4 linked regions of the Homo sapiens genome follow. The protein of the gene in region 1 purifies or fractionates together with the protein of each later gene. This does not show direct contact. Each region holds a gene or a part of one and is shown on either strand. Other genes may lie near its edges.

Evidence for each region. Proteins that work in one complex are often made in the same cells at the same time.
Region 2: the proteins of POLA2 (region 1) and CHM purify together in Homo sapiens (co-immunoprecipitation; one large-scale study listed by IntAct). This does not show direct contact.
Region 3: the proteins of POLA2 (region 1) and PDCD4 fractionate together in Homo sapiens (co-fractionation; one large-scale study listed by BioGRID). This does not show direct contact.
Region 4: the proteins of POLA2 (region 1) and NCKAP1 fractionate together in Homo sapiens (co-fractionation; one large-scale study listed by BioGRID). This does not show direct contact.

What each region holds. Positions count from the first base shown.
Region 1 is NC_000011.10:65,278,233-65,282,499, reverse strand, and holds part of POLA2 (DNA polymerase alpha subunit B), read right to left. Parts: intron 3,771-4,267; coding exon 3,577-3,770; intron 2,963-3,576; coding exon 2,874-2,962; intron 1,509-2,873; coding exon 1,353-1,508; intron 831-1,352; coding exon 768-830; intron 22-767; coding exon 1-21. UniProt on the Homo sapiens protein: Accessory subunit of the DNA polymerase alpha complex (also known as the alpha DNA polymerase-primase complex) which plays an essential role in the initiation of DNA synthesis.
Region 2 is NC_000023.11:85,953,502-85,957,058, reverse strand, and holds part of CHM (rab proteins geranylgeranyltransferase component A 1), read left to right. Parts: intron 1-680; coding exon 681-906; intron 907-3,557. UniProt on the Homo sapiens protein: Substrate-binding subunit of the Rab geranylgeranyltransferase (GGTase) complex.
Region 3 is NC_000010.11:110,888,928-110,892,484, reverse strand, and holds part of PDCD4 (programmed cell death protein 4), read right to left. Parts: intron 2,953-3,557; coding exon 2,855-2,952; intron 1,930-2,854; coding exon 1,815-1,929; intron 1-1,814. UniProt on the Homo sapiens protein: Inhibits translation initiation and cap-dependent translation. May excert its function by hindering the interaction between EIF4A1 and EIF4G. Inhibits the helicase activity of EIF4A. Modulates the activation of JUN kinase.
Region 4 is NC_000002.12:182,909,401-182,912,957, forward strand, and holds part of NCKAP1 (nck-associated protein 1), read right to left. Parts: 3' UTR 1-3,557. UniProt on the Homo sapiens protein: Part of the WAVE complex that regulates lamellipodia formation. The WAVE complex regulates actin filament reorganization via its interaction with the Arp2/3 complex. Actin remodeling activity is regulated by RAC1.

The DNA.
Region 1 (4,267 bases):
ATAAAATGGAAGTGGCACACCCTAAAAACAGGGGAAAAGCTCAAGTAAGGTCTTGCGCCAGGCATCACCTTGGTAAGGAAAGGGGAGGGCACCAGGTTGGGGGTGGTGCAGGTGTGTGATGGGAGGACAGTGGGGAGGAGCGAGAGGGCAGGGGAAGGATGTGCCTCTGTCTTGCTCCCTGGATCTGATGGGACCTGCCATTTTTCTATACTGCTCAGAGGGCAAAGAAACCCAGGTAATGGGAGGTCACTACTCAATTGTCATAAAATACCCAGCAACAAGTGGGAGCAAAACAGGTGCCTAAAGTATCAGTGTACTTCTAGGCAAGGATGGGAGAGAATGGTTTCTTGCTACTTTTCCTGGCATTCTACGAAAATCTCTGGAGGATTGTTGCCTAGAGCAGGGATAGGTAACCTTTCGGCCTCTGGGCCAAATTTGGCTGCAGCCCACTATTTAAATAAAGTTTTATGGGAACACAGCCACAGTCATCTGTTTAAGAGTCCTCTATGGCTGCTTTTGTAGACAAAGGCAGAATTGAGTCATTGTGACAGAGACCATATAGCTACAAAGTCTAAAAGAGTTACTGTCTGGCCCTTTATAGAAAGGGTTTGCTGACCCCTGGCCTAGGGGTGGGTTCCCACTTACAGATGGAGAACTGACTAACAAATAAATGGGCTCCTAAAAAGGACCAGTTTCTAGAACAGACAGCTTCCAGACATACTTTGTCTGAAGCAAACCAAGAGGCAAGTGGGGGTACTGCTGTGTACCTCGTAGAGTTTGGTGGCAACAAGTTTCCTACCAGTGGTGTTGATTCCTTCCATAATTACAACCTGAAAGACAAAAACAAACAGGATTGCTAAGCAGTGGAGATCAATGAGGTCTGGAATACATTATTTTGAGGCAGTTAAAAGCATTGTCCAACTACTCTCATTCTGTAATCATAAACTTAGGGCATTTTTGTAGAAAACGAATTAAGGGCGTTGCATTAGTAATAATAATTATGCTCTATATAAGTGATCTAATTTTCACAACAATCCTATGAGGTAAGAATTATTATTTCCATTTTGTGAGTGAAGAAACTGTAGTTTAGATGGTTAAGTACCTTGTGCACAGTCATGCACCTCATGGAGCGGGGAGTTGGGATTTGAGGCTGCGCAGTCAGGTCCCAGAGCCTGGGTCAGAGCATGGGGGAAACAGGAATCCCAACAGTGGTGTCTGCTCTGGGGCATGTGCTCCAGCTGCACCCCATGGCAGCAGAGACAGGAACTGAGGAGCAGCTGCGCATGGCACAGCACCTACACTACAGGGGTAAAGAGTGCGCCTGCATTCTGGTGGAACTCCTCCAATCTCACCTGTCCAGGAAACAGAGAATATTCCTTAAGCTCAGATAAATCCACTGGAATTTGAGCACCCGAGGAATGTTCCCGGTCTCCCTCGAGAATCACTGACTTGTTGTTCAGCTTCCCGTTGCTATCACAGCCAATCTGGCCCAGCAGAGTGACAGGCTCCTACCAAAGGAAGGTCACAGCATAAGAATGACAGTCTTTGGAGCAGGAGCTCAAAATCTGAAGTCGATAGGGTGAATAGCAAAACAAACTGCAAACAACAAATACATTTCTTGGCAGGGCATTGCTTTGACCCTGAGGTGACTACCGCGTCATCACTGACTCTCAGGATGGAAGAACTCTGAAAGGGCATCTTGTCCACCCATCCACCCAGCACTTGAGCCTTCCTAGGAGGCTGCCTAAGTGTGAGCATCTCTAGTGTAGGGGAACTTGCCCCTGGATGCCTACCCCACCCTGTCCTCACCACCCCAGGGCAGCCCACTGCATCTTTGGGCAGCTATAACTACTTAATAATAGCTAACATTTCTTGAGCTTACTAAATACCATGCACTGTTCTAAAATGTATTCTTAGGCATTTTATATGTATTAACTCATTTAATCCTTGCAACAACCATCGGGTGGATATTACTGTATCCATTTTACAGATGAGGAAAACAAGCAACAGAAAGGTTAGATAATTTAGTCAAGGTCAAACTGTGGGTGAAGCTTGGGTTTGAAACCAGAAATTTGGCTCTAGAGCCATATCCTTAGCCACATACCATACAACCTCTTAACAGGAAGTTCTTTATTAATTGAGCTAAAATCTCTGTCTCCATGGCTTCCTCTGTTCTGTTCCCACTCTTGGGAGAAAACAGAGGAAGTCTCATCTTTCCCAGTGATTGTGCCTCCCTGCCTTCCCTCAATTACTTCCTTCCAAGTCCTCTAACACTTCCTTCTATGACACAGTTCTGCATCACTTCCCCAACTGATCATTCTTTGAATGTAAACATTGACAAAGGTACTTTAAAGAAACTTCTAGAATATATTTCCCCTTAGATTAGAAAACATTCTAGAGAGAAAGCACTGGTATATATGCCAGATTAAACTATGATATAAAGATACTATTGGCAGCAGTTTGTCTATAACAAGAGACCAAACCAGGGGAGAGACTGTGAGTCATTGTCCAGAGAACAAGATTCTGAAAACCCCACCGTCGCTGCTGTCCTTTTATCTCGATACGTGAATGCTTCTATTTGTGGGAAATCCCCGGGGAGCTACCTGACTCACCACCAAGGGAAACAAGGCCTTGAGTCTCTGCTTATGTGCAAGACTCTAATCCAAGTGGGAAGAAAATCACTCTCTGGCCACAAAACCAGACAGCACTTACAAATCTTTCTTCAGAAGGGCCCATTTTCCCAAATTCAACCAAGACAGATGTTCAAACTAGAACACAGACAAGAAGTGAAAAAGGAAGCAAGAAGGATGCCTCTTGGTCATCGATTTAAAAACGTAATATTAATTAGTGAGAACTATTAGAACAACTCTTACCTGTGCTGGGGCTAGCAAAGGAGTGAAAGCTTCAATCTTGTAATGTTCCTTGAGTTCGCTGCCAAGTTCTTCTATCTTACAGGTCAGAACTACAATCCCAGAAGTGGAAAAAAGTATTATGTTTAAGACATTTCACTTGCCAAGAAGAGAAAATACAGCACATTGTAAAATATTAAAGTCAGTCATTTTACAGAAGCAGGAAGGGTGCCTGGACATCTGGCCAGTTTAAACCTTCTAAAACCTTTGCCAATTTTCCGATATTTGGTTGCTGAATCTGGCCTTCCATCTGGCCACAGGAGACCCCATAGCACAATTCCAGGGAATCAGCATGAACCCCACCCCATCTCCAAGTCTGCCCTTTACTCAAGTCCTCACTGAGGTTTTAGGCAAGTCAAGGCCAACCTGAAGAAGGCTTCTAACGAAGGAACCATGAATATCTTTAAGTTGAATTCCTTTACATCGTTCAAGTTTTTGCTGCTGGGAATGGTTATGTGCGTTTTAGCAAAGTGAAGTGACTTGGGGCAATCACTGATAGTATTGCCCGTGTCCCTCCATTACTAGGGCTTCCATGAGGACATCTACCAACTCATACATTGAAAGGCAACCTTGGAACTTGTTCTACCAGCCTAGCTGAAGCTTTGTTACTCTACACCCTTCTAGGTGGTTTTATATCCACCAGAATTTCAAAGGGAAAAACAATCACCTTCTCGAATGTCTGGGAGCTTCTGAAACATGGATTTGTAGCTCCCAGTTAGTGCCTCTGGACATCCCAAGACCTTCAGGCTGATGTTTCCAGCTCCTCCTCTCCCAGACCAAGATACTCCCTGTGCTAAGCCGAAGGAGGTAACCACTTCTCCTCGGTTACTTCGTGAGTTGTATTTCTGGGAGGGAGTAGCACTAATTGGAAGCAAAACAGGTTAATATTACTGTGTTCATATCTAAAGGGAGAGAAGAATAAAATGAGGTTACCTTTGGAAATGGGGACTGGAGAAAAGGAAGGTGGCCTCATAGTTTATAAATTGAATCAGTTTAATGGGGTTGGACATACCCAGACCTTTAAGGAATTTCAGGAATGAAGGGCTGAGGAATACCAGGCTGAGGAATACCAAACATTTTTAGAGAAGTTTAGAGACAGAAACGTATTTTAAAAAGTTGTCGTTCTCTTGGCATTAAAACTAAGCAAGGCAAAAAGATCCCCAGATTCTGAATTGATTAAAAGGCAAACTTTAAGTCCCATTTTTTTCTTCTCATGAATTTTTAGCATTTATTGGAACATCATCTGAGCCTGCAACTGTGGATAAGCTAAAACTTGCTGAGCATATATAAAAACTCACAATATGGTTCAAGGTAGAAACAACAATAAAATGAAATTCAAATTAATCAATTTTCCCCAG
Region 2 (3,557 bases), on another chromosome or scaffold:
TAAAATTCAATTCTCTCAGTAAATTTTCATAATTTTTATTTATGTAAATTATTTCTGTAAAGTTTTTGTCTTTTATCATGGGATTTATTTCCCACCACTAACAGTCCAATTACATTATATTCTGTTCTTGGTTTAAAGGAGTAACTTCTGGGGGTCCCGTATGTTTTGATGTGATTATGTGGCCATAAGACTGATTCCAGTAGCCACATGGAAATTCATTTCATTATTTTTTAGTTTATTTTCTGAGTATCAGTGAGAAGTATACGTTTTACAAAACTCACATATTTATCATTTTAAATCAATACATTCCCATGTTGTCATAGTTGTTTAATATTTTCAGTACCATTATTGGCATTATCCTGCAGGTTTCATGATAATAAAGTGAGATTATTGCCAACTATGACAACCCATTGAGTTATTTAATATTTTCTAGTTTTTTTTAAATCCATGAAATGCTCAATCATAATTCATCATTTAAAGCTAAAAATTGTGCCATTACTCCAAATAAGAGAGAGAGATTGTTTCCATTTTTTCCTAAGATCAACCATCAGTGTCCAAAATGTAATACCACCTATGTCCTTTGTGAGGTCTGTGAAACACACTTCATCTCCTTTTTGTGGGGTGGTTTTAAATAGAAGTTTAGTTCTGATTTTAAGTGATAAAATTTCATCTTTTCATAGGATATGAAGAGATCACATTTTATGAATATTTAAAGACTCAAAAATTAACCCCCAACCTCCAATATATTGTCATGCATTCAATTGCAATGACATCAGAGACAGCCAGCAGCACCATAGATGGTCTCAAAGCTACCAAAAACTTTCTTCACTGTCTTGGGCGGTATGGCAACACTCCATTTTTGTTTCCTTTATATGGCCAAGGAGAACTCCCCCAGTGTTTCTGCAGGTAAGTTTGCCATTGATTTTCTTGTCCCTTCTAAAAGTGATACTTGAATAACAGATGAAAATTAGGCAGGCAAAAATGAGATTTATTCAAGATTTAGTATATGCAAATATATACTTTATTCTATTTATTTTTTATAATCTATTTACCTACCTATCTACCCACCTAAGTGATATATTCAGTGTGGCCTCTTTTTGAGCTTGATAAAAATACTATAAATTCCTTTTTCCACTCAATAGCATGATGGAAAGTATTGTCATTGCATATAATTTTAGTTAATTTTTTATTACTATATAGTATGTTATTGTGAATACACCACAATCTATTTTTTCATTTTTCTGTTGATGAACACAGGATGTTTCCAGTTTTTTGAGGTTAACACCCTTGTGTATGTTTCAAGTTGTGTATGTTCAAGAATTTCTCTCGGAAACATATCTAGGGGTGGAATTCCCCAGTCCTGAGATACATGAATGTTAACACTTTACAACATCGTGTTCAGTTATTTCTCTAGAGGGCTGTACCAATTATAACCTTTTAGCCGTACATAAGAATACCCAAAGCTTTACATGTTTGCCAACATTTAAAATTTTTTTGTCAACCTAACTCACATAAATTATCATTGCATTGGATTTTTATTTTTCATTTCCCTAATTACCTATGAAGTTGAACCTTTTCTCATATGTTTACTGGCCATTCATGTTTTATCTTCAGGGAATACTTGTTTGTGTCTTTTTTTGTTTGTTTTACACATTTTTAAAAATTTTTATTTTTTGTGGGTACATAGGAGGCATATGTGTTTGTGGGGTACATGAGATAGTTTAATACAGGCATGCAAAGTGTAATCCATCATGGTAAATGGAGTATCCATCCCTTCACACATTTATCCTTTGTGTTGAAAACAATCCAATTATACTCTTCATTTTAACATGTACAATTAAATCATTATTGACTGTAGTCACTCTGTTGTAATATCAAACACTAGATTTTATTCATTCTTTCTAACTACGTTTTGTACCTATTAACCATTCCTACTTATCCGCTGCCCCCTCAAAACCCGCCCCAGGCTCTGATAACCATCCTTTTACTCTCTGTCTCCATATGTTTAATTGTTTTAATTTTTAGCTCCCGCAAGTAAGTGAGGATATGCATTGTTTGTCTTTCTGTGGCTGGCTTATTTCACTTAATATAATGACCTCCAGTTTCATCCATGTTGTCATGTTGTTGCAAATGTCAGGGTCTCATTCTTTTGTTTTTTTTTTTTTGGGAGATGGAGTCTTGCTCTGTCACCCAGGGTGGAGTGCAGTGGTGTGATCTCGGCTCACTGCAACCTCTGCCACCCAGGTTCAAGTGATTCTCCTGCCTCAGTCTCCTGAGTAGCTGGGATTACAGGCACGTGCCACCACACCTGGCTAATTTTTGTATTTTTAGTAGTGATGGAGTTTCAGCATCTTGGCCAGGCTAGTCTTGAACTCCCGACTTTGTGATCCACCCATCTCAGCCTCCCAAAGTGCTGGTATTACAGGCGTGAGCCACCATGCCCAGCCAGGATCTCGTTCTTTTTATGGCTGAGTATTACTCCAAGGTGTAACTGTACTACATTTTCTTTATCCATTTATCTGTTGCTGGGCACTTAGGTTGCTTCCAAATCTTGGTTATTGTGAACAGTGCTGCGACAAATGTGGTATGTAGATATCCCTTTGATACACTGATTTCCTTTCTTTTGGGTATATACCTAGCAGTGGGATTGCTAGATCGTATGGTAGCTCTATTTTTACTTTTCTGAGGAACTTCCAAACTGTTCTCCACAGTGGTTGTACTAATTAACACTCCCACCCACAGTGTTCAAGGGTTCCCTTTTCTCCGTATCTTTGCCAGCATTTGCTAGTGTCTTTCTTTTGAATAAAAGTTATTTTAACTGGGGTAATAAAATATCTCATTGTAATTTTGATGTGCATTTCTCTGATGATCAGTGATGTTGAACACCTTTTTATATGTCTCCTTGTCATTTGTATGTCTTCTTTTGAAAAATGTCTATTCAGATCTTTTGCCCAATTTTTAGTCATATCATTAGATTTTTTTCCTGTAGAGTTGTTTGAGCTACTTATATATTCTGGTCATTAATTCCTTGTTAGACGGGTAGTTTGCAGATATTCTCTTTCATTCTGTGGGTTGTCTTTTCACTTTGTTTATGGTTTCTTTTGCTGTGCAGAAACTTTTTAACTTCATGTGTTCCCGTTTGTCCATTTTTGCTTTAGTCGCCTGTGCTTGTGGGGCATTGCTTAAGAAATCTTTGCCCAGACCAGTGTCTTGGAGGTTTTCTCCGATGTTTTCTTGTAGTAGTTTCAAAGTTTGAGGCATTAGATTTAATTCTTTAATCCATTTTGATTTGCTTTTTATATACTGCAAAAGATAGGGGTCTAGTTTCATTTTTCTGCATACAGATATCCAGTTACCCCAACACCCTTTATGGAAAAGACTGTCTTTTACCCAGTGTATATTCTTGGCACCTTTGTCAAAAATGAGTTCACTGTAGGTGTGTGGATTTGTTTCTGGGTTCTCTATTCTGTTTTTTTGGTTTATGTGTCTGTTTTTATGCCAGTACCATGCTGTTTTGGTGACTATAGTTCTGTAGTATAATTTGAAATAAGGTAATG
Region 3 (3,557 bases), on another chromosome or scaffold:
TGATAAATTACAAATACATTTATACATTTCTAAAAGTCTTCTTTGATCCAACCCTTCCATGTAAGCAAATATCCAAATAATGTCAACCTCAAACTCATATACTGGCAGTTTTATTTCCATTTTTATCTTGTCAATTTTCTTTATTGAGAGAGAATTCACACACCATAAAACAGCTTGTCCAGTTTCCAAAAATATTAATTTTGGAGAGTATTACCATCTTAACAATATTAAGTATCCTCATCCATAACCATGGGATATCATTCTATTTATTTAGGTCTTCCTTAATTTCTTTCAACCTGTTTTGCAGTTTTCAGTGTACAAGACTTGCATTTGTCTTGTTAAATTTATTCCTAAGTATTTTATTTTTGATGCTATCACAAATGCAATAATTGCATTTCAGATCATTCATTTCTACTGTATAGAGAATTGAATTTTGTGTACTGATCTTTTATCTTGCAACCTTTCTGAACTCATTTTTTAGTTAATAGTTTGGTTTCAGTTTTGGGGAGTTAAAAAATGTGGATTCATTCAAATTTTCTGTATACAGATCATGTTATCTGGGAATACAACTAGTTTTATCTCCTCCTTTCCAATCTGGATGCCTTTTATCTTTCCTGCCTAATTGCCCTGGCATCTTGACTATTTTTATACCTCAATTTTTCTAATAATTGTTTAATTTTTAAAAAACAGATACTGCAATCACGACATTACAAACACTGACTCATCTATTTTAACATATATAAAAGCAAAAACAGTCAAGGCTCTAACTACAATTTGAACTCCTTAACACTTAAGCTAGATACACATACACAAACACACACACACACCTCATTAAAAGACTTACTAAAAATCAAAATTGTAGTTACATGAAAAGATTATACTCAAAAATCAGAAGCACATGAACTACAAATCTTCTAGTTGCATGCCTTTTCTTAAAGAGATCTGCAGATAAGGAGTTTTTTCTGTTTTTTGGTTTCTTGTTATAGGACACCACATTGCAGCCAGAAAAAAAAAAAATCCATAGGGAATAAATCTGGCATTTTAATGCAATAAATCGCTTTTTTTTTTTTTTTTTTTTGAGACAGAGTCTTGCTCTGTCACCCATGCTGGAGTGCAGTGGTGTGATCTCAGCTCACTGCAACCTCCTCCTCCTGGGTTCAAGCAATACTGGTGCCTCAGCCTCCCGAGTAGCTGGGATTACAGGTGCGCACCACCATGCCTGGCTAATTATTATGTATTTTTAGTAGAAACGGGGTTTCACCATGTTGACCAGGCTGGTCTCAAACTCCTGGCCTCAAGCAATCCACCCGCCTCAGCCTCTCAAAGTGCTGGGATTACAATCAATTTTCTTTTAAAACATGCATATGGGTAGTGAATGTCCTCACAAAAATCTAACACTCTGATCTGCTCTAGTGCTCATAATTCATAACTCATTATTTAAGACTATCTAGTTTTAAATTGCTCATATAAAAGCGTATTTATTGAATAGCTAAAACACAGAAAATCTCATTTCAACAGCATTTGAAAATTATTAAATAATACTATAAGAAAAAGATTTCAGGCATTCCTTTGAAGTTCATAGATGGCTTGCTTATAATTATTCATGAAAGCCATTTTAACAGACTCATTTTTTAATCATATAATTTATAATAAAAGGTTATAAAGCCACATATTAAAAAAATTATTTCATTTTCCAATTGCAGCTGTAAGACCGAACTTAATTTTTGTCCATAAAAATACCAGCTAGTAGCCACAATTTATTTCACTCAGAGGAATACATATAAATTAAGTTAAAAACAATACCCAATCATTACCTCTTTAACAAGGTGATTGACAGATTGCTGCCCACCTCCAGAGCCCCACACACTATCTTTACGCTTTCCACCTTTAGACATACTCAGAAGCACGGTAGCCTTATCCAGAGCAGCTCTACAGAGAAAGAAAAAAATTTAAGTTTGATAGCTGGACATACCTAAAGTTTACTAAATTAGGGATAAAGCTGACAAAATCCTATATGCCCTAAATCTTTCACATAACATAAAAGCAAAATAAAATTCAAAACACTTTTTCAAAACAAAAAGGAGCAAAAAGAAGTTGATCCTCATGTTAATATTCTCATGCTCTATTTCATTTCTCATTCAAGAAAAATCAAAACACATTACAAAATAACTGATCTACACTGAGAAGAAACACTTCACATATAATTAACTTTCACCTAGATCCATGCCTTCCTACCCAGGGACACCATTCCACTATGATGTGAAGTAGCCCTAGAAAATTAAGTTAATATATAGACCTGAGGAAAACTAAGACATGGCTGAGTCCAAGTCTCCAAGAAGTTAAGAAAAATCAAATAGCATAACTCCCAAATATCACATTTAGTTATACCAAATATCATATTAATTATACTAAATCACAAGAGTGAAAAAGATACTTTCTGACTAAGATTTCTACAGTAGATAAATACAAAATAAAACTATAAATCAGGCCTCTCTTCTTAAGGTTATCCATCTTATTAGAATATTAAACTATTACACAATGCTAGAACCTGAAAACAGAACTTAAAGATCTGTCCAATGGTTTTGTTTCATAAATAAAGAAACTGAGGCCCAAAGAAGAGTGGCTTGACATGAAGGTAATTAATGATTTAGCTAAACTCCAGAACTTTTCCATTATAGTACTGTCCTCTTCCTGGTATATCATGCCAATAGTCTCTCCATTTTAACAGTGGAGAATATAGAGAAGTGACAAACAGATGTACAGAGTGTCTGATTAACACAAGTGTCATTTCAATAGGATCCTGTAGAATTTTCCCCTATTTTGAAATTCTAAGTAGGAAAAGTGATTTACTTACCTAGCCTGCACACAATCTACAGTTCCTTTGTAACTATCAATATAGGTATTACATAAAATTCCATCTCCAACAGCTCTAGCAATAAACTGGCCCACCAACTGTAAAAAGGAAAAAAAAAAGAGCTATAAAAAAAGTTAAATAACTTTTATAGGTCACAATTTCTAAATACATAAATGATGAAGATTAGCTGAAGTACACAGTCAGTACCTAAAAGATGCTGGAATTTTTTTTTAAAAAAAAACCTATGTAGTACCTGTTATGCCTGGCATACACTCCCACATCTTAACCTTCAAGTTAAGTGCCAGAGTGGGGGCCACATCTGTTTTGCTCACTAATGAATCCCTAACACCTTGCACACTGCCTGAATACATAGCATATGATCAAATTTTTTTTTTTTTTTTTTTTTTTTGAGACAGAGTCTCGCTCTGTCGCCCAGGCTGGAGTGCAGTGGCACGATCTCAGTTCACTGCAACCTCCACCTCCCAGGTTCAAGTGATTCTTCTCCCTCAGCCTCCCGAGTGGCTGGGACTACAGGCGCACACCTGGCTAATTTTTGTATTTCTAGTAGAGACGGGGTGTCACCATCTTGGCCAGGCTGGTCTCGAACTCCTGACCTCGTGATCCGCCTGCCTCGGCCTCCCAAAGTGCTGGGGTTAAACGAATGATTTAAGGTCAAGTGACGTCCTCTCTTCTTAAAACAAAA
Region 4 (3,557 bases), on another chromosome or scaffold:
ATCAATTTGACTATTTTAGGTACCTAATATAAGAGGAATTATACAATATCTGTTCTTTTGTGGCTGGCTTATTTCACTCAGCATAATTAATGTCTTCAAGGTTCATTCATATTGTCTCATGTGTCAAAATTTCTTTCCTTTTTAAGGCTGAATAATATGCCACCGTACATATATATCTCATTTGTTTTTTGATTCATTTGTTGATGGACGCTCGGATTTACTGCCTTTTCTTGTATGTTGTTGTTTTATTTGTTTAAGTAAACAATCACTTTTAAAGCCAAGGTTTCCTTGAGAAGATATTTAGGGCACAGGACACCAAAATACAAATAAGTCAACTAGAAATGAGAATTTTCTGTGCTCCATTTTGAATTTGATTTGTAGTTCTCAGAATAGAACAGGGAGCCCAACCTGAGCTGAGCTTCTTGGGTACTCCTAAGAAAAACACTTCCCTGGAATCCATTCTCAGCCACCGATTTAGATAAGGGCCAAATAGCCTCCTGATCCAAGGCCACAAATTCTGTCACATTTGGTGTTCAGACACGTATAACCAAGTCTGTTGGAATGGATGGGGTGGGAATTCAGTGAAGGCCAAAATACAAAAGAAAATGATAGGGTCGCAGACAGAAAGTTTTATTCTAAGGAGTTCAACCGCTGAGCCCTAGAGTTAAGGAGAAACAGTGGTTTCTGCAAAGCTGTGGTAGCTGGCTCTTTAACTGGTTCAGACTCTACTATCTTGGAGGACTGCAGGTGCCCTGGTAGCCAAAAGGGCTCTAAGTTCAAACTCAAGGAGCTGCCTCACTAAACTCTACATCATTTTGGAGTCCAAGTAAACCTGCTGTGGGACAACCCTTGCCACCCCACTCAAGCTACAGTTTTTGATTGAGTAGGAAAGCCAGCATGATTTGTGTTTCTGCATCCAGGCAAATGTACTAAAATTCTTTGAGAGATGAGAGGAAATATTTTTCAGAAGCTTGGAGGTCTGAGTACACATGTGGGGAAAACAGTGATTATAAATTGGGCATGGATGTTAATGTATACTCATATGTGCCCACAACAGTTGGAGCCTTGGGAACAAGGAAGTTACACTGCCTCGGCAAAGAAAGTGCTTTTCTCCACTGGAACTGCAAAGGAGAATCTCAGCTCTAGGAGAGCCTCAGACCATTCAGGATTCAGAACCTAGATAGATGATGCTGTGAGGGCTGCGGCTGTGCTCTGCACTTCTGTGTACGTCGAACAAGACAATAGATGTGAAAGAGCAACCCAGAAGTTAGTCCATGTTTGGTGGAAAGGGGTCCTCAGCACCCTCATAGGTCATGCATCCTCAAAACCTTTTCTTCTAGGAAATTCCTGGCAATGCAATCTAATTTCTTCACTCCTCATCTTGAGGGGTAAGTGGGCAAACATCAAGAACACTGGCTTATCAGCAACCTTCAGAGAAAGTTACTGAGAAGAAGGTGATTGCTAAGTATTTACAGATTAAAGACTCAACCTGTATTCATGCTCTGATGGTCCAACATTATAACTTGGAAATAAAAATAAAATCCTAAGCTCCCCCCCCACATTTGACTAAACAGACCCTCTCCTGGCCAAGAGGACTTCAGGGAAACCTTAAAAACTGAGTTCCCGGCCATGATGGGATGGGAGGTTGGGCACATCTCATTATACCCCCTCCTCACTAACTACCATTAGGTGTTCTTTCCTAAGAGTTAAACAGAAACCAGCCCTTTGGAAAGACCTGTTGCACCTCTGATTACAACCAACCTCATGACTACCCCTCCCTTTTTGCTCTTTGACAACTGACCAGCATTCCTTCCTATTAAGGGAGTCCACTGACCATGGAGTGGTTCTGGCCAGTCTAGGGAAGATGCAGTGAGGGTTTTTGTGTCCTCTGCTTCACCTTTTGATGTCAGAGGGCTGAAAATCCCACCCTTGGATCATGCTAACACCACTAAGCCTTACATAGTGGGGAATTCAAACACATGGGAAGGGGATTAATTCACAAAACAGCCTATACTATATGAATAAGACCAAAAAATGGCCATCAGTTCATGACTTTATTAACTTATATAGTTAATACATGTTTTATATACTGTTATAAACAGACTATGTGAAAAAATTTGAAATATAAACTCTTAAACCATGAAAACATAAGTCAAAATTCTGTTACTTCAAATGTTAAATATTTCAGTCATCTATGAATGGCCATCATAATGATTTGAAACTAGCAAAGTTATCAGTTAGGTTTGCTATATCCTTTTTTTTCTCCCAAGCTGTTTGAGCTTTTATGTTAACACCTATACTACTACAATGAGAAAACAGATTGCTGTTGATGGGAATTATTAAAAAAAAACAAAACAAACAGAACCGCTTTTGGAGAAACTTGCCCTTATATACTCTCTTATAATTGCCTCAACAAATTCAAGATGGTTATACTTTTTAAAAAAGTTTTTCATGATTTTATTAGAAAGCAGTAACTGCATTTCTGGTAGGCCTTTCTGATAGGTCACTTGAGAATGACTTTTGCATTATTCATGCATTTTCCACAATAGACACTTCATGTCTTTGAATTATTTTAGTTGGAGTAGGAAATGCAAACAAATCGGCAAATGGACTTAGCCCTTGAAAGCTTATGTCCAGCTGAGTAGTTATATCAATCACATCATGAAAAATTCCTTTTACCTAAAAAACTGCTGAAGTTCAGAGGTTGTAATTTTTTTTTCTCAGCATAGGACAGACTGAAAAAGAAAATGAAGACCATCTTAAAATATCTTTGGATATTGGCAAAAATTTAGGGAGCTTTTTGATATGAGAAAAATATGCTTTTGCCTTTAAGGCAACATGTTGCCCATTACGTATTAATAAACTGGATTCAACAAAGACATTCTTACCCATTGCTAAAAATCAACCAACTATAAACAGTTACCACAGTTCTGTTTTTGCCAGTGCCAAAAAGATTTCCAAATCTTTTCAGCTAAAAAGCCAGCAAAGATCAAAGAGTTTTCACATGAGCTCTCTATGTGGCAATGAGATACAAGTGCCATCTTTTAGCACATTATAATAATCCTGTTGTGCAGTACTCCTTTCCAATGACCTGTAAAAATTATATATTCAGAAAGGCATTTTTCTCAGCAAAAGGGAAAAAGTACGAATTAGGAAAGGTACATTTAACAAGCTCAATGATCTATTATAAGTTAATACACTTTTTCCCCATTCTGTGGAGTTCAGAATTATAAATGCTTGGCTAGTTAGCCATAATAAAAATGGAATTTGAATGTTAGAGTGCAACCTGACAAAATGATTTATTACTCCTTCGTCATTGAAACTAATACACGCTCTAACCTTTATAGCTTTTCACTTACTCTGTTAAGCATGCCTTGCACCAAATTAAAATATGTGCACTAGCACAATACTATAGACAGATCTCAAAACCAAAGAAAGATAGAGGAAGAAAGGAAGGAAGGAAGGAAGGAAGGAAGGAAGGAAGGAAAGAATTCAGCCAGATGAACTTTAGTTAAGTGCAATTTATGTTTTTGCTAATGGCATCATACTAATTTTCC